6 separate regions of the Homo sapiens genome follow, and all the other regions are reported to be linked to region 1. Evidence: microRNA targets listed by miRTarBase, many of them from high-throughput screens and not tested one by one. Region 1 holds a microRNA gene; each other region holds the end of a gene's coding sequence.
What was found. The annotated mature microRNA hsa-miR-6074 reads GAUAUUCAGAGGCUAGGUGG and lies in region 1 at 1,310-1,329, opposite strand. An mRNA with a match to its seed (bases 2 to 7 or 8) in the 3' UTR can be bound and repressed. Matches are read on the target gene's strand: a 7mer-m8 pairs with bases 2 to 8, a 7mer-A1 pairs with bases 2 to 7 and ends in A, and an 8mer does both.

Region 1 (3,106 bases):
TTCCCAGAGGTTGAAGGGTGGGGCTGAAGTCCCAACCCTCTAATCCTGCCTTGGTCTTTCCTGTGACCAGCCCTCATCCTGAAGCCATCTAAAGGTTGCCAGTCACCAGTAATCTCATTAGCATTCAAAAACACACTTATTACTTTGGAGATTCCAAGGACTTTAGAAGCTGAATGCCAGGAAACAAGGACCCAATATATATCCCATAAAATAACAGTTCACTCCCTATCCTCCAACACAGATCCCTTACATTAAAAAAATGTACAACTCAAATGGTACTGGCAAATTATTGGAATCCCATTTAATCTTTAATAATTAGTCCAGTCCACTCTTATGTCATGTGAATATGTCTCTCAGAGCAAGGCCACTCAGGTTTGCAGCCTTCTCATTCAATCTTGTCAGGGTCCAAGAGCAAGAGTAGTCTCAGCAAACATAGAGCTTTACCCTTTCTGGCATCTGGCATAGTTGAGCTGAAAGACAATGTCATCTCTTGCTCTGAGCCTCTTTGGAAGTGTTGATATAATATTGGATTTCTCTTATTACATACCATTTATTCATTACTTTTTTATATGACCTTATTTGAAGATATTATTCATTTCTTTAACCTCATATACTATTTCTCCTTCTCTTCATTTATACCTAAACTTTTCCGCCTTTGCTAACATAGCAGAAAATCTGACAGGACAAAAATACGTAGACACTACTCCTTTAGATGTTAATTTTAAGTAACTTTTCAATACTGCCCATTATCCTAATATTCCTTTCAGTAAATAAGCTTTGCTTATTCTGCTTGGCTCTGAGCATAATGTTCAGATTGGTTCAAATAAAAAAAGCCACCATATTTTTATCCTTGGGAATAAGAAAACAGAATTTCTTACATGGTAGAAAGGAAAAACGTCACTACAAAATGTAATTATAGCATTTTACAATATGCATCGCACAAACTGTATAAAACACACAAAGTACATCTACTAAAACTTTGTTCTAAAACAATTTTTTAAGTGAGCTAGTTTTCAATGCAGTCGAGATTACTGAGTTAAAAAAAAGATTGAGAAGGATTGAGAAGGAGCTTTGCATAAACAAAAACTCTATCTGCAAATAATTATTCCTTAATCCTAAGAGCTGGGGTAGCTTTCCTTTGTTTATTAGCTTTTTTTTTTGTTTTTTAATGGAAGTGATTTTCTTAGAGTAGAAAGTTTAGTATCAGAATTGGCTGTGTTGTATATATGGTAGTCACTTTTCAGATATTTTCCTGTCTGTTGGTTTAGGGGCTCTTTCTCCACACCCACCCTCAAGGCTACCTCTATCTCCACCTAGCCTCTGAATATCTCCACCAAAGAGCAAATCAGTTGACTGAAGGTGAGTAAAAATTCCATGGGGTTGGTAGTTAAAACTATTGACCAGGCTGGGCATGGTGGCTCATGCCTGTAATCCCAGCACTTTGGGAGGCTGAGGCGGGCAGATCACCTGAGGTCAGGAGTTTGAGACCAGCCTGGCCAATATGGTAAAACCCTGTATCTACTAAAAATACAAAAAATAACTAGCTGGGCATGGTGGCGGGTGCCTGTAGTCCCAGCTACTCAGGAGACTGAAGCAGGAGAATCACTTGAACCTGGGAGGCGGAGGTTGCAGTGAGCCGAGATCACGCCACCGCACTCCAGCCTGGGCAACAGAGCGAGACTCCATCTAACAATAATAACAATAAAGCTATTGACCAAAATTTTTATGCTCTGAGATTTCTCTGTGAATTTGCATGAACCCGGGAGCCTAGCCCATTAAACTGACTACCTGAATTATATGACTATCTACATCTTTTCAGAGGGTAGAGTGATTTCTTCCTCAATCTAATAAAATTTATATTACTATATCCTTAACCCATAAGTGGGTATGTTGAGTACAACTTTAAAATATTTTTTTACTTTGAGAGATTACATGTTTAGGTTTTAATGTGTTTCTTGTTTTGTTTATTGTTTAGGCAAAGTCAAAAAACTAACCTTATCGGTCTGGCATTTGTTTAAATTTTTATTTGCACAGCAAACATTATTCAGCGCTGTGTTAGTATTAAAATATGAGAAACACCAGGACAAAAATACGTAGACACTCCTCCGTTAGATGTTAATTTTAAGCAGCAGAAAAAGCCAAATTCTGCGTTCAGTATGCAGAGAAATAAGGAAAAGAAGTAACAGAAAGAGGTTAATGTGGGCTGAGACCACTTGAGGGCATTTGAGCACCTTTGCATTCCATGCTAATAAAGTGACAGAAGTTAGAAAGTTGGCCTATCTTTGAAGATCAACGTATATATATAGATATATGAATAGAGGAGATACATTTTATATCTGCTCCAGAACTCATTTTGGATTTTTTTCAACATCCTTCCGACAACATCCTTCCGAAAGAGATCAAAGTTGAAACTATTAGTAAATAATAAAATTAAGTCAATAGGTTATTAAATACCACATCCAAGTTATCAAAAATTGAAGTACAGAGTAAAAAAGGAAAAAGTATACTACATACAATGAGATTATATGAGTCTCCAGACCCCCATTTCTGCAAAAAGCTCATCAAATATTCATAAATCTAAGTAACTTCCCAGTAGGACATCTCCCAAACAAAGTGTAGGTGAACACAGAAAGCTGAAATACATAAAAACAGAATTTGGGTGTCTACTTTGACTGTCTGGAATTTGTTAGGAAGCAGAAATGCCACCAAAATGGAAATTGCACACAGGGAAAAAAATCCCACTGTGCTTTTATCCAGCTAGGTTGGAAATGATGTAATAAATGCACCATAATTTATGTACATAAATGTGTGGGTAACTCATCCAGGGAGTGGCAAGTGCAGAATTTTAGTGGAAAAAAATAGTGTACATCAAAGAAATTTGACCAGCGGCCAACAACCATTAATCTCTTCATGAACTCTTAAATATATAGATGCCAAATAAAACTTGTCATTTTATTCCATCTCTCAAAGCAATACATTCTTATTTATGAAGTTATGAGAGAACATAACATTATACCTTATTTGACATACAACACACACAGAGCATACAGCAACCTTGAGAAGATTTCCTTCATAAAAATGAGAACATTGATAAATCAACAGCCAT
Region 2 (3,106 bases), not on the chromosome of region 1:
AACGTACAGAAAAGGAGTGATATATTTATATGTAAATATATGTCTATACGTCTCTGTGTGTGTGTGGTGTATGCTTAAAACTCTTAGGAAAAGCTTCTTCTCTAGAAGAGATTATAAATCACCTCACTGGAAAAGAATCAAAGAACCAGGCTTTCAATGGACTCCACTTCTTTATTTATAAACCCATCTTCCAACCTTTCTGAACTTCTTAAACAACATGAATTCATCTCAAGTTGTACAATCTGTTACCTTGGCAAGCTTCTAATGACAAATCTTATTTTCCATCTTTGAATGTGGCTCTTAATTTCTCTACTAAACATTGAGAGCAAGAACCATTGCGGCAGGGGAGGAATGGGAGTGTGCTTGTGGATTTGATTTGATTTGATTTTTAAAGTAGTTTTGCTGTCAGAATTCTTTATATCTCTTTCACATGGAAAGGATATAAAGATACCCTGAGGACAGATCATACTCAGATTGTTCTGTTGTGTGGCAAATTTGTCCTTTTATTTAAAAAAAAATCACTTCATCCATGTCCTTGTTTCTCTCTATAACAAAAACAGCATAGGATTAGTCAAAGAGCAAAAGTGATAATATAGATGCCTCTGTAATCCTGTGTAGCTTTCACACGACTTTTAATTGGGAGTATGTGAGTTTATATATATATATATATATATATATTTATGTGTGTGTGTGTGTGTGCGTATATATATGTATATATACATATATTCAGAGAATGCTAATAATGCTCTAAAATAGCAGTTTATCTAGTCCAGTTTTTATACTACATAATGACACCCAACCCACTGCCATGCTTTAAATGGAAGCAGAGGTAAATTTTTCACTAATTATACATTTTAGGGCAGCAACTCTGTGCTGGTCTTATGGTGTTTGGGGACGTTTTTGATATATAAATAGTTAAATGTGTTCTGATTTAAGTGAGGCTTATGAATTAAAAGAAGAAGAAGACTTCTGATTTTCATTCCCAGACCTCCACTCACTCAGCATTTTAGTATGATAAAGATAAACCCTGTACAAATAGTGGATTCTTTCCCCCATTCTAATCACTGGAGAGTGCTGACTGCACAATCTAACCAAACGGTGTGTTGAAGCCCCACTGCTTAAGATGATTAAATGTTTTGAACAAGGAATGATTCAGTTGCCATGGGAAGACCGTGGCGTGTTGATGCAGTGGCCTCCTGTAGGTTGAATAAGTTCAGTGTTTACCCTGTGGGCCATTTATTTTCAAAATTAAATTAAAATTCTTACTCTTAAGGAGCTGCAGTTTGATTGTTTTGTTTTTAGGGGCAGCTTGAGTTCCTCCACATTCCATGTCTGAGCTCACATGTGTGCCTAATTTCACAGACAGCCCCTGCCACCCGCCCGCCGAGTTCAGACATACTCTGCTGCCTGCAGCACGGCAGCTCCTAGGATCCCTAAAGCTCCCAGCAGCTACACAACTTGAGTGCCTACAATTTTTAATACAAACTCACATCCTGAAATCCTAATGTAGAGTATTATGTTAACATACAACAACTAATTATCAGAGACGCAACATTCGTGGAGTATATAATAACACATATATTTGCAATTTAGTTTCTAAGTTTTACAACCTAATGTGAGTGAACAAATATCAGACATCTTGGAGGCTTAATATAATTCTGCACTAAAATTATAAAGACTATGAAACCGAATAAAGGAACTTACACGACAGCTAAGAGTTATTACTGTATAAAATACAACTAAATGAATATTTTCCATATGCTTAATTCTCACTGATAGAAATTATTCATATAAAAACTTCTTGGCATCTCTTCTGGTGCTTCTCTTAGTACTAGTAACAGCAATTAATCACAAAAATTCCACAACTTTGTGGCATTATGACTAAAACATAAGCAGAAAAACAAAATAAAACTCCAGGAGGCAGAAATACATCACAAGCTCCATCATAATACATGTTTGTCTTGCTATTAAAATGTAAACTCTTCCAAAACTTTCCCAAATGACTTACATTCATCAATAAGTGTGATTTTTACTTGTTAAAGTGAAGTTAAAGAAAATATTTAGCATATATTTACCCTCAGTTTTAGAAATGTCATACATTAAATCTAAATTGACTCTCTTCCTTTTTAAGTTTGGTGTCTCCACTTTATCTTTTAAATATGGAAAATAACTTCTACATAGGTCAGACTTGATTTTGCCAGTTTCTGCAGGCTCAGTTGATTTCACGGCTTTGTAAAAGAAATGAAGTGCGAGTCCATGTCCAGCATCCACGGAGAGGCCACCTCAGATGAGCCTACGGCGTCCAACAAAGTAGAATGAACTGACTTACCTGAAGAAGCCCAGTCTAGATTCATCAAGCCATTTGTGTGAAATTCTGCACCTTGGGGTTTGCACACATTTCCACCAACATCGGTGTCTCCATCCCCAAATGAAAAGCATCATGAACAGAAAAGAAATCAGAGAAAAAGGAGAAGGAGAAGCAGGTCTACACCAAAAGGATCATTTCTTTCATGAGGCAATGCCTCACGGGACACTTCCGTAAGGGGATGTCAAAACTGCTGCCACACTCAAGGACTCTTCCATTTTCCTCAGGATGAAAGGTTTGAAAAAGTGGACCTCTGAGAGGAAATGCTGCAGACTTCCAAATTGGTGAAAGAACTTCCAGCGTCGCTTGGATACTCTGGGTAGGAGGAACTGGAGGAGATGATATTTTTGAGCCTCTGGAGGGCAATGATTAAAAGCAGAAGCAGAAACGCTAAAAGGCTGAGGAATATGGACACATAGATGTAGACGTTTGACAGGTGGCCTGAGGATGGGTCCACTGACGTGGACAGGGATGTGGGAAACAGCTCAAGAAAAGTTCCATTCTCCACACTTCCCGAAAATCCTGAGGAAGTGTCAGGTTCAGACATCTTTATGGAGGGTGAAGGAGTGATCTGGTAGATTAAAGTCAAAACTTCACACAGGGCTTACACAGGACAGATTGGCATTTTTTCACGATCGTGTTTGCAGAATTCACAGGCTGTTAAATCAGCACAACAAAACTTGTTTCTCAAAGGCAGCAGGTATCAGATGTGCATTGAGACTGAAAAAAAAAAGCAAGTCA
Region 3 (3,106 bases), not on the chromosome of region 1:
ACATGTTCCACCTTTGGAAGGTCAAGCCAGGCCCTTCTTTAGTGCCCTCCTCTGGGGTCTGTCTACTTTCCCACAAGAAAATACACCCCTCACAAAAAATTATTTTGAAAAACTCAAAGAAAGGAGGAGCTTATGGGAGAAACCCCAGGCAAGAAGGAAGAGCATGCTTTTTCAAACCATCTGACTCCGTCACAGAGGGTATGTACAAATGGGCAGCTCTTGGTGGGCCCAGATGTGATTGGGTTGATGGGCACAGAACTGTTAAGACTTTTTTGTGGTGAATGCCGTGGTCCTCGTCACCTCCTGCCCTGCATCCCGTGTGCTCACTGGTGACCTGAGGTTTTGTTCCTTCTCGCTTGCTCCACCCTTGACTCAGTGACTTCCCTGGACTCTCTGGGATTGGCAGCTGCCCTCCAGTCCCAGGCCCTGACCTCGTCTGCCCCTTTGACCTGTGAGTGTACAAATCTCTCTTTCCCTTTCAGTCTGGCAAACAGGGTTGGGATGTTTTCAAAAGGAATTTTACCAGGAAGCTAAAAAGAAACCAAAACAACCTCCTCCCCGCAACTGCCACAAAATCCAGATAAGGAAAAGCAAATACAGAGGAACAGATGTGTATGTGGAATACTGATTCTTCCTCCTGAGATCACAAAAATCTGGCCCAGACTGTCCTGATTAATGTGGTTCAGGAAGCCCCCAGTCCCCATGGTCCTGCCTCATTCAGCCTCTCAACTCCCAGTGGCCTCCAAGTAGAGCTGCTGGGTTTGAGGGATGAGCACCCCCTTTTAGGCTCTGCTTCCTGTGGCCCTGTCATGCTCTGTAGCATCCCCTCCACCAACTTGTGGATTCTGCCCCCGACCTTTCCCGCCAAGGGAGGAAGACGCAGGCCTGCCTACCCTCCAGTGCCTCCTGTGGCTCAGGCCCTGGAAGTCCTGCTTCGAGGTTCATCTCTCTGTTCTGTTTTTTTCTTTGAAGGGTGTTCCTAAGCCAACCGTGACAGGTGGTTCTACCTTTTCTGGAGTTCAGCTGCTTTGTCTATTTTAAGAAACCATCTGGGACTGCTGAAAGCAGTTTTCTCCTCAGGATGGGTGAAATCAAGGGGTTAATTTGATCAAGTCTGCCTGCCCTGCTTGCTTTTTGTTTTTTCCCTTTTTCCATGGAGCACAAAGCTTCTTTGGTAGCTGAAGGCCTCGCTGCTGAATGTGGAAACAACCTTCACTGGCTACTTTATAGGTAACATTCATAGGTCACTATGAGAATGGGCGCTACAGTCATTTTTCAGGAACTTGGGACAGCTCTTGTCCAGCTCAAACCAATCGAGACCACCGACTTTTCTACTGGGCCTCTGCAAGTGCTCGAGGGGTGGCCTTTTGACATCGGAGGGCCAAAAACTCCACCCTCAGATCATAACACAACCATTTTCTTTTCTTTTTTTTTTTTCTTTTTTTTTTTTTGAGACCGAGTCTCTCTCTCTCACCCAGGCTGGAGTGCAGTGGGCGATCTCGGCTCACTGCAAGCTCCGCCTCCCGGGTTCACACCATTCTCCTGCCTCAGCTTCCTGAGTAGCTGGGACTACAGGCTCCCGCCACCACGCCTGGCTAATTTTTTGTATTTTTTTTTTTTTTTTAGTAGAGACGGGGTTTCACCATGTTAGCCAGGATGGTCTCGATCTCCTGACCTCATGATCTGCCTACCTCCGCCTCCCAAAGTGCTGGGATTACAGGCGTGAGCCACCGTGCCCAGCCAGCAAAACAATTTTCTACACAAATGTCCTTATGAAATGCCATGAACCCCAAGTACACTTGGGCAGAATGAACCTATTACTTCATTTTCCCCACAGCCAATCACCCTTCCCCATGCCTTAGACCATCCCACTTCCCTCAGCCATAAATATCCCTAAGGCTTATCTTGAGGAGGTGGATTTAATATAAGTTGCCAGGACCAGCAGACCCTGAAACTCCCCACCCCTGCCCTTCCTATATTCTGCTTAAAATTTGGTGGATGAACCTCATTCTCCCTTTAATTGCAGAACAGAAATGTGTGACACTCCCTGAGTGTCAATGAATGCCTGATCCCTGCCTAACTCAGGAAATTCTTGCCATCTCTCCAGGTGCTCCCCTAAAAATGGTGCTCCGGGGAATGATCTCACAGAACTCAAGTCTTTACCATTTTATGGTATCAAATTTCTTAAGCTCATAGTGACAACAGTACGAGGATGGTGCTTTTGACCTACGGTCTCATACCTCCCTTCCTTCAGCATCCTCGCTAGACCCAGCCTTGAACCCTTTGTTTGGCATGAGGTAGGGCCTCAGTGCCTCAGTGGCATTCATAATTATTTTCTTTCCATGGTGAGGTTGGGAGAGAGTTGAGCTCTTCTCTAGAGGAGGGGCCCAGGTAAGGCTGAGAGGGGGCTCCGAGAAGCTCCTTCCTCCACAGCCCTCTCCCAGCAGCCACTGCTGTCCTCCACAAAGGCACCTCTGGCTCCTCCACTTCCTGTGATCCAAATGGTGGGGGAAGAGCAGCAGGCAGGGCTGCTCCTCAGGCCAAAACAACCTGGTGGTGGGAGTGGATGGCACAGAGGAGAAAGCAGTGGCTAGGAGTCAGGTGGAGATGATGTTTTGCTCCCTGAGGGCTCCAGGTCAGCTTTGCTCTAATTTTGTTTTCATTTGTTTTCACAATCGTGGAGGGAGAACTCTCTGGAGGCTTGGGAAGGTGGACCCCAGCTGCAGAGAAACACAGGCCAAGACCCACACACCACAGCCCAGGTCTTGTGGGTGGACAGGAGAAGTGGTTCTGATTCCCGTCTGGGAAGTCTCAGGGACACGGTTCAGGAGTAATCTACAGGAGAAGCTGAAGGACAGTGGAGTTATCTCCCTTGCTCCTTATCTCCCTTCCCCAGTGCCAGGCTTCCTCCTGGCTTCTTCCCAGAGGCCCTCTGGTCAAGATGAACACATTAGCCAGGAAGACAGACACTCACCACCAGCCTTGGGCATACGACAGTGGAGCTGACTTCTCTGGGAAGAGATCTGAGAGTCAGGGGGCCAGGGAGGCATCCCCCTTCCCAGCCGCTGGGTGTGGCTGACCTCCATGTCTTCCAACCAGTCTGGCC
Region 4 (3,106 bases), not on the chromosome of region 1:
GGGGCTGGAGGGAGGAGAAAAAGGGCAGTCACATAATGGGCATATAGAGTTCAGTTCTGCAAGATGAGAAAATTCTGGAGATCTGTTTTACAACTTTGTAAATATTTTTAACACTGCTGAACTGTACACTTCAAAATGCCTAAGATGGTAAATTATGTGATGTTGTTTTTAACCACATACACGCAAAAACTATTTGCATCATTTTGGGTACAGATCCTTGATGGAAATACTGGATACAAGTGACTATGGTGTGCATGTAGCATCTGCCCTTTATAATGTAACTTCCTTTTAAACCACACACACAAGAAAATCTCACAAACTCAGCCTTTATTAAATATATTAAGTACTGAGCATCCTAAATTATAGCTTATTAGAGGAACGACCAAGGGTTCAGACAGAAAACAGACTATTCTGTTTCATATTTTATCTTTGTGATTATTTGGCTTATGTCTGCCTTCTCCATTAAGCAGACAGTGAGGTCCAGGGTCTGATTTTGTTCACCATTACATTTCCAGGGCCTAGCACAGTGCCTGGAAAATAGCACATAAACGTTTACTGGATGAGTCAATATAGTATTAGACACTTGGAGGCGTAGTACTACCCAAGTCTATAATCACCAAATTCAGGTGCAATAAGAGATATACCATAAAGGAGGCAGAATCAACTTTCAAAAAACTAATTTTAATCAAAACAAAAATTGTTGATCATTAACAAGTTTATAAAACAGTGATTTAGTTACATAAATAAATTGATATCAGTGTATCAAATCTTAATTACTTTCAACTTCATGAGCATGTTTACATGGGTGATGAATTACAACCTTTTTTTTTCTTTTTACCTATTATAATAAATAAAATGGAGCGCATGAAATAGTTCTTCTAAACAAAAATACCTACAAACATACCTCTAAGCATGTTCTCTAGTGAAGGGAACAAGAGACACTGGACAACTTTTGCACCAAAACATAAAAATTGCTTTAAAAAGCACAAGGTTACAGAACCATCAGCTAAAGTAAAGACACTATACTGTAACCAAAGTTGGTATTTAATAATATAATGAACAGTTTGGTAGTTAGATCTCCAGTTTGGTTATTTTAAAGCATTAAGACAAGGCAAGATAGAAGGCTGCTTTTGTTTGAGTAATTTCTAGAGAAAATAAAATATATTAAAAAAAAAGAAAACTGAAAAGTAGAACAGTCATACCTACACAACTTTCTGTCCTGCACAAAGTCAAAATACCTATGCAGAATAGATATATAATATATATAATGTTATTTGTGCACAAAGGTTAGCTTATTATTAGCTCACTGCAAAGGCGTAATGTATCATTATGTCAATTGTTTTGGAAAACATTTTGTGTTTTGTGTCAAAAGGATATTTCTTTTAAGTTTCCTAGGCTAGGAGGCACGAACCCCAATTCCGGCATATTGTATATTCTTAATGCTAAGGCTTGCTGCTCTGGCTGTGTATTTTGTTGTCCCTCTTTATTCTAGTGCCTGTTATAAGCATGTGTGGTGTAGTGGTGGTTGTTGGTGGTGTGTGTGTGTGTCTGTGTGTATACATATATATATGTATACATAAGTTGTATAAATATATATACATATATAATTTCTCCCAATAGATCTCAGTCCAACCATGCAATCCAAAAGGTGGCTCTGCATAGATGCCCAGCATGAAGTTCACCACCTGAGCCAACCCTGAAGCAAGGCGTACTTTTAGTCCTTCTGATAGGTTTTCTCTCAGTTTTTTTTTTGTTTTTGTTTAAAACCAAGCTACTGCAGCTTCAAGTATTTTGCATTACATAGAATATTTTTTATAAATTAGTTAATGTTATATTTTCAATATTCAGACATATACTATAATATATATACAGTACAATAAATGCTCTCATTCTTTTTTTAATTTTTTTGGATAAATCCCTGAGAATGTATGTTGACAGTCGCTAAGTTTCCACATGCACAAGCATCGTGTGCCATGCTTCTGGACGAACAGCACTGCAAAGCCACATGGGTCAGCCTTTTTACTATTAGTATTTCATTTTGTTGGTTTGTTTAAATATGCTGAAAATGTAAAGATGAGTTACAAAGGAGTAAAGCTGAATCCATTCGAGGTACTTATCACAGGATGGAGGTGTTTTGTTTGGTTTTTAAAGCCATTTCAATTATTTTTTTTGAGGCTGTGAACGTATACAGAAAACAGGAGAGCTATGTGGACTTTTGCCACTTGACAACATATACTCAGTGTAAACCAAACCTTTTTAACCTCTCTCTCATACAAAACCAGAAAAAAAAAATTAAAAAAAATAATAAAATAAAGGAAAGAAAGAAATAGGGAAAAAATAAAAAACACACAAACTTTCACAACATGACAATTTAGTCTGCAAACGCAATATAACTATACACATATAATACCGGTGTGGCTCTGTTCTTTAAGTTAAAAAGGGTACAAAGGCAGGCTCAAGTAAAAACAAACCATCCCTCCCATCCCCACCCCCCACCCCATTCATACAAGATCTATCAACCAAACCTCTCCCGAACCAACATCATCAGTTTCTTTTTGCCTTTGTAGATTTGTTTCAGGTTGTCAATAAACTGTGTAAACTGAATGTGTCCATCATGCGCCATTAAGAAGGTCTCTCGGGCTTTGCTGAGGAACTCTATAAACTCACTATAGTGCCGAGGACTGATGTGTGTGAGCCGTGAGTGCGTTGTGTTGATGTAGGCCCCGATCGTGGCATCCAAGAGTTGCCTCAAGGGGGCTTTGTCCAGTGACATGAGCTTACCAGAGTTCCTCCTCCCATGAAGTCCCACCATGCCAGGAGTGGTCAGAGTGCATCTGCGCAAAATGTCTGACAGTACCGTTGCACACTTGACACTCTTGACCACCAGAGGTATTATAGCTGCAAGCTCATTTTTACCAAGGGAGTGGCTAAGCGCACAGGCCCACAAAACATCATTAATGGCAGGGTGTGTGTCCTGATTGTAGCTCAGGTTGAGATGGGTCATGGCCAGGGTGGCCAGCTTGTAGGCCCTCATGGGGTACCCGCGGTGCTCCATGTACCGTGCTATTGTAAAGAGCTGTGTATAGCTCATGCCAGTCGTAGCAGC
Region 5 (3,106 bases), not on the chromosome of region 1:
GATTTGTGTAAGCATCAGACGATCCACACAGGAGAGAAACCATATAATTGTAAAGAATGTGGGAAGAGCTTCAGACGGTCCTCCTATCTTTTGATCCATCAGCGAGTCCACACTGGAGAAAAGCCATACAAATGTGACAAGTGTGGGAAGAGCTACATTACTAAGTCAGGTCTTGACTTGCACCATAGAGCCCACACAGGAGAGAGACCTTATAACTGTGATGACTGTGGGAAGAGCTTTAGACAGGCCTCAAGTATTTTGAATCATAAGAGACTCCATTGCCGAAAAAAACCATTCAAATGTGAGGATTGTGGAAAGAAGCTTGTATACCGGTCATACCGTAAAGACCAACAAAAAAACCACAGTGGAGAAAATCCATCCAAATGTGAAGACTGTGGGAAGCGCTACAAGAGGCGCTTGAATCTTGATATAATTTTATCATTATTTTTAAATGACACGTAAGTGTTGTACATATTTATGGGGTACAGTGTGATATTTAAATATATGTATATGATGTATAATGATCAAATCAGTGTAATTAGCACATTTATCACCTCAATTATCTCTTTTTTGTGTTGAGAAAATTAAAAATTCATTGTTCCAGCAGTTTGAAAATAAATTGTTGTCGATGATAGTCACCTTTAGTGCTGCAGAACAGCAGAACTTCTTCCTCTTATCTACCTGTACTTTTGCATCCATTAGCCAACCTTTGGCCATCCCACCTATCCCTTACCCTTCCCTGCCTCTAGAGCCACTGTTCTCACTACTTCTAAGAAATCAGCTTTTTAAGCTTCCCCATGTGATTGAGGACAGTTTGAAGTTAGTGTTTCAGCCATAGCTCAGCATACCCCAGTGGTCGTGGGACTGTCAGAGCAGAGAATGCTGCAGGGTTTCTAACAGAAGTTTGACAATTAGTTATTATTCAGGAGACAGGTCTTAGTATAAGAGTTTGTTCACACACTTTCAAAACACTAATGATGAACATGTCAAAATTGATGACCACTAGAATGTCAGCCACATGTGTCTTTGTATTTTTGCTGCATCCTTACATTGCTTGAGTCTGGAAGATTGAGGCTGCACTGACCTATGGTAGTGCTACTGCACTCCAGCCAGGGCAACAGAGTGAGACCCTGTCTCCAAAAAAAAAAATTAAATAAATACCTTTCTTTGTTTCTAGACAAGCATCTCTCTGTGTTTCTGGAATTTTTTTTTTGAGTGTACATACATAGTGTGTTACAATTATATTCTTATTTTCTTCAGCAGTGAATATTTGCTGGTATTTTTCTATTTTATAATTGTATGCATTATTTTTAGATTTCTCAGTGAACATCAGAAACCCCATCTCTACAAGAAATACAATAATTAGCCAGTTGTGTTGGTGTATGTCTGTAGTCCCAGCTGGAGACTACTGGAGAGGCTGAAGTGGGAGGATCGCTTCAACCCAGGAGGCAGATATATATACAAATGGAATAGAAGTGAGAGTCCATAAAGAAACCCATACATCTAAGGCCACTTGATTTTCAAGAAGGATCCAAGATTACTTTATGGAGACAGAATAGTCTCTTCGACCAATACTGCTGGGACACCTATACACAGACACACAACATAATGAAGTTAGATTGTACCTCACCCTACACTTAAAAGTTAACTCAAAATTCATCAGTGACCTAATGTAACAGCTAAACTATAAAAGTATTAGAAGAAAACATAGAAGTAAATCTTCCTGACTTTATTTGGAATGGATTCTTCAATGAAACAACATAAGCAAAAGCAAATATAAATACCTAAATGGGACCTAGGTTTTAAAAAATGCTGTGCATACATGGACATTGTCATGAACATGAAAAGACCATACAGCATGAGTTCTACTATCCAGATTATATAAAGAATTCTTACAACTCAATAACAGAAACCACTCAATTAAAAAAATGGGCAAAGGGCTGGGTGCAGTGTCATGCCTGTAATTCCAGCACTTTGGGAGGCTGAGGTGGGCAGTTTACTTGAGGCCAGGAGTTCAAGACCAGCCTGGCCAACATGGTGAAAGTCTGTCTTTACTAAAAATACAACTAGCTGGATGTGGTGGCCTCCTGGGCTCAAACCATCCTTCCACCTCAGCCTCTTGAGCAGCTGAGACTACAGGCGTGCACCACAGCCTCTGGTTAAGTTTTGTATTTTTTTATAGAGATGAGGTTCCTCCATGTTGCCCAGGCTGGTCTCGAACTACTGCACTCAAGTAATCTGCCCACCTCAGCCTCCCAAAGTGCTGGGATTACAGGCATGAGCCACTGCACTCAGCCTAAAAAAAAAAAATCCTAATTTTTATGGGTACACATATGGAGTATATATGTTGATACAGGCATACAATGCATAATAATCATATCAGGGTAAATGGGGTATCTGTTACCACAAGCATTTATCAGATTTTTGTGTGTGTTAGAAACAATCCGTACTCGTTTAGTTATTTCAAATGTACAATAAATTATTATTGACTGTAACTCTGTTGTGCTATCAAATACCAGATCTTATTCATTCTATCTAAGCATAGTTTTGTACCCACTAACCATCCCCACTTCCCTCACCACCAACCTTAACTTTCCCTCCCTCTGGTAACCAACATTCTGCTCTCTGTCTCCATGCATTCAATTGTTTTAATTTTTAGCTCCTACAAATAAGTGAGAAGATGTGAAGTTTGTCTTTCTGTGCCTGACTTATTTCACTGAATGTAATGTCCTTCCAATTCCATCCATATTGTTGCAAATAACAAAATCTCATTCTTTTTGTGGCTGAATAGTACTCCATTGTGTATATGTCCATTTCCTGTATCCATTCACCTGTTGATGCATACTTAGGTTGCTTCCAAATTTTGGTTATTGTGAATAGTGCTGCAATAAACATTGCAGGGGAGGGTGCAGATATCACTTTGATATAGTTTTAATTTTTTGAGGAACCTCCATACTGTTCTCCGCAGTGGTTCTACTAATTTACATTCCCACCAACAATGTGCGAGGATTCCCTCCTTCACTCCTTCCACATCCTCACCAACATTTGATATTGCCTGTCTTTTGAATAAAAGCTATTTTAACTGGAGTGGGATATCTCATGGTAG
Region 6 (3,106 bases), not on the chromosome of region 1:
ATGTGCTGATTAACATATTCTGTGATATGGTTTACAACTTTTAATCATAATTGTCCATGATTTTGGAATGCTGTTATTTATCAGTAAATGTAAAATATTTGAGGCATTTAGCCATACACACACTAGAACTTTTTAAAACTTTGTCCTATAGTGTAATTATAAACTGATGACTATTATCTTCATACATTGAGTCTTCATGCATCAATGAAATGAAAAATATAGGATTATTTATTTACTTTTTGTAACTAAGTGGGAAATAAGAAAAAAAGTTAGAAAGTACTTAAGGGGAAAATCGTTCTTACTAAGTCATGTATTTTCAACTTGTCTTCCCTGGTATATCATAAATACCGACATATTACATACCCCATGTAAAATTTTGCTTAAACTCTCTAGCACTTGGCATGTAGAATATGTACCATAGGTATCAGGTTAAAACACTAAAGTCTGCCAGAAACTTTTGACAGTAGCAAGAAAATTGTTGAAGAAAAAATAAATTATTTACTGAGGGTAGTTATGTTAAAGTTTTGCGAACTTAAAGGGCTGACTTTAGTTCCTTCATGGTAATGGCTTGAGTAACATCATCTTTGGGATTTTTTAAATACTGGTCCAGTCTAGGAGAACCTGGAAGATGACCAGAGGTATTTCAGTTTCCCTAGGGAGAGCTTCGTTATCCATGTGGATGATAAGTCTGCTTGATTTATTATTAAATCATTATAGCAGTGAAGTGGTGCCATTTTCTCTCTCTTAAGCCCCATTTGAAAGGCTAGAGAAGGGGATATATATACTATGTTCAAGGTTTGTAAGGTTGTTAATGTACATAATTGCAGATTGCAATAAAAGCTTAGATACATTTTGTAAACCCAACCCACTAAATGAGCAGGTTACAAGACAAATGTCACCAGCCTCAAGTATTTTATGAACTATTTACTGAGGGTAGTTATGTTAAATAGATTATAATGTGGTAAATTATTTCCTGAATCCTTTATCACAGGAAAAACACAGACCCTCATAAAAGGGATAATTAAAACGGATGTGTCTGAACATTTAGTGAAGATGAGACTTAAAACATGAAAGTGTATTTGTGTATTTTGAGGGTTTTAGAAACCGGTTGCCTTAGAGGTTAGACTTTTGAAGAAAAAAAAAAAAAGATACAGATCTTTTCCCCTGGCCAAAGGGAAGTTGTATTAGTCTGTGACATCTTGTGATGCTGTTTATCTTGGTTTGACATTGGAGATACGCTAGTAACTGTGATACCATACTATAAAACAGAAGAATTTTCTGCTACTAAAAACTGCCTTTTTACAAAATGACTGTAAATATTTGTAAAATAAAATAACACTAAACTTTAAGCCCAAAAGGAGAGATAGAGCCATGTGTTCAGTTGTGGACCTGTCCGTGGGGCACAGTGCCACCCCATCACAGTGTTGCTGTCATCAGGCAAAAGTGAATGTTTGTTTATGGCAAATTCGTCTTTTGCGAATGGCTTAATTCTGACACTACCTTTCTGGGAAATGTTAATAAATTTTTAATATTCACTTCTATGTGTCTTGATTTGTTTGCTCTTTGTGTGTGGAGTTAATTTGGCCTTGCAGACATAAATGCTTTAATAAAGCGGCTTTGGAGACAACGGCAGGGCTTTTCCATTTCAGCAGGCAGGCACGGAGGTATCTTTATTGCCATGTCTAATGTGGCCTGGGGAAGAGCACTCAAGATGGAGACAAGGCGTGGGTTTGGGCCCAGCTCCCAACTTGGATGTGTGACTTTAAACCAATCAGATAACCTCCAAACACATTTTCTGAGATTTTTAAATGACTGCAAATTGTTGAAGACACAGAATGAATGATTGTGAAAACCATTTTGTAAGCTCTGAAGTACTAAGACAATTTGTGAGCCCTACAGAGAACACAGGATTAACAGTTAAGGTGTTACAGCTTTGGGCCAAGTGTGAGTTAGAGCTCTCTGGCTAAGAGAATAGAAATTGGTTTGCCCACCTCCCACCCCTTCACCTCTAGAAGAGGAGGGCTTAAGAATGGGAGGTGTGATGCCGAGGGGTAGGAATCTAACCAGAACCCAGCAGAGCCGTCAGGATCCTGGTCCCACGGGTAAAATGAGTACATCATGGAGAGGACCACAGCAGAACTTTTTTTTTTTTGGTTGTATATATATATATATATATTTTTTTTTTTTTTTTTTTTTTTTTTTTTTGAGGCGGACTCTTGCTCTTGTCACCCAGGCTGGAGTGCAGTGGCGGGAACTTGGCTCACGATCTTGGCTCACTACAACCTCTGCCTCCTGGGTTCATGCCACTCTCCTGCCTCAGCCTCCCGAGTAGCTGGGACTACAGGCGCCCGCCACCACACCTGGCTAATTTTTGGTATTTTTAGTAGAGACGGGGTTTCACCGTGTTAGACAGGATGGTCTTGATCTCCTGACCTCATGATCCGCCTGCCTCAGCCTCCCAAAGTGGTGGGATTACAGGTGTGAGCCACTGCGCCTGGTCTGGTTGTATAGATTCTGTAGCCACTCACTATGAAGAAATCGTTTATGATACTATGCAGACTATGAAGAACACAACAGACTTTAGATTTGAATAATTTATTCTAACAAAAGTATAAAGTATGGAAAATTAGTGTATTTGAATCATTTCAGAGAGTAGAGCAAGTTTCACACTAGCAGATTTCAGATTTTAGCACCTTTGAAATGAAATATTCAGAGTTAAGACAAGTGGCAACGCAGGCTGCAGGTGACCTACAGGGATACTCATCTGACTTCGGTGCCATTCACATCACAGTGCGGTCATTTGGTTTTTTCCTCTACATTGTGAAAGTGCCACAAAACAAAGAGAATGAGAAAAGAGTTCACTGAATTCATGGCTGGTGGTTAGAGGATGAACTAGAGACAAAAGGAGAAAGGCCATAGGCTGGACTGCAGGTCAAATAGACAGTCCGAAGGCACTGACGATGCAGTACATGGTCTTATTCTCCCATCGCACAGTGCAGCTCCCTGCGGGAGGGAAGAGAGCAGCATTTACGGCAGGGAAAGCTGGGGGACGACGTTTTACTCACAATAAGGCCAACATTCAAGTACCCATCTCTATGCTACACAA

Region 2: miRTarBase lists SERTM1 as a target of hsa-miR-6074. Seed matches in the 3' UTR shown: 8mer at 722-729.
Region 3: the mRNA of ROBO4 is a reported target of hsa-miR-6074. Seed matches in the 3' UTR shown: 7mer-A1 at 1,975-1,981.
Region 4: miRTarBase lists ZSWIM6 as a target of hsa-miR-6074. Seed matches in the 3' UTR shown: 7mer-m8 at 1,841-1,847 and 7mer-A1 at 1,430-1,436.
Region 5: the mRNA of ZNF223 is a reported target of hsa-miR-6074. The part of its 3' UTR that is shown has no 7-base or 8-base seed match.
Region 6: miRTarBase lists DYNLT1 as a target of hsa-miR-6074. Seed matches in the 3' UTR shown: 7mer-m8 at 2,706-2,712.

What each region holds. Positions count from the first base shown.
Region 1 is chr12:66,022,341-66,025,446 of GRCh38, forward strand. MIR6074 (microRNA 6074) reads right to left here and starts at 1,386; the gene lies at 1,280-1,386.
Region 2 is chr13:36,694,885-36,697,990 of GRCh38, reverse strand. SERTM1 (serine rich and transmembrane domain containing 1) reads right to left here. Exons shown (of 2, transcript NM_203451.3): 2 at 152-3,085. The coding sequence starts at 2,912. The coding sequence ends at 2,589. All of the region lies in intron 6 of LOC102723490 (a long non-coding RNA gene), which reads left to right. Among named protein-coding and RNA genes, the nearest start is that of SERTM1, 22 kb to the right of the region's middle.
Region 3 is chr11:124,882,067-124,885,172 of GRCh38, forward strand. ROBO4 (roundabout guidance receptor 4) reads right to left here. Exons shown (of 18, transcript NM_019055.6): 17 at 2,975-3,106; 18 at 1,625-2,847. The coding sequence ends at 2,825. Among named protein-coding and RNA genes, the nearest start is that of ROBO4, 14 kb to the right of the region's middle. RefSeq lists a silencer at 707-1,001.
Region 4 is chr5:61,543,727-61,546,832 of GRCh38, reverse strand. ZSWIM6 (zinc finger SWIM-type containing 6) reads right to left here. Exons shown (of 14, transcript NM_020928.2): 14 at 661-3,106. The coding sequence ends at 2,516. Among named protein-coding and RNA genes, the nearest start is that of LINC03122, 93 kb to the left of the region's middle.
Region 5 is chr19:44,066,816-44,069,921 of GRCh38, forward strand. It overlaps ZNF223 (zinc finger protein 223), which reads left to right. Exons shown (of 5, transcript NM_013361.6): 5 at 1-1,184. The coding sequence ends at 462. Among named protein-coding and RNA genes, the nearest start is that of ZNF284, 3.8 kb to the right of the region's middle.
Region 6 is chr6:158,633,895-158,637,000 of GRCh38, forward strand. DYNLT1 (dynein light chain Tctex-type 1) reads right to left here. Exons shown (of 5, transcript NM_006519.4): 5 at 2,580-3,003. The coding sequence ends at 2,933. It overlaps TMEM181 (transmembrane protein 181), which reads left to right. Exons shown (of 17, transcript NM_001376852.1): 17 at 1-1,535. Among named protein-coding and RNA genes, the nearest start is that of DYNLT1, 9.3 kb to the right of the region's middle.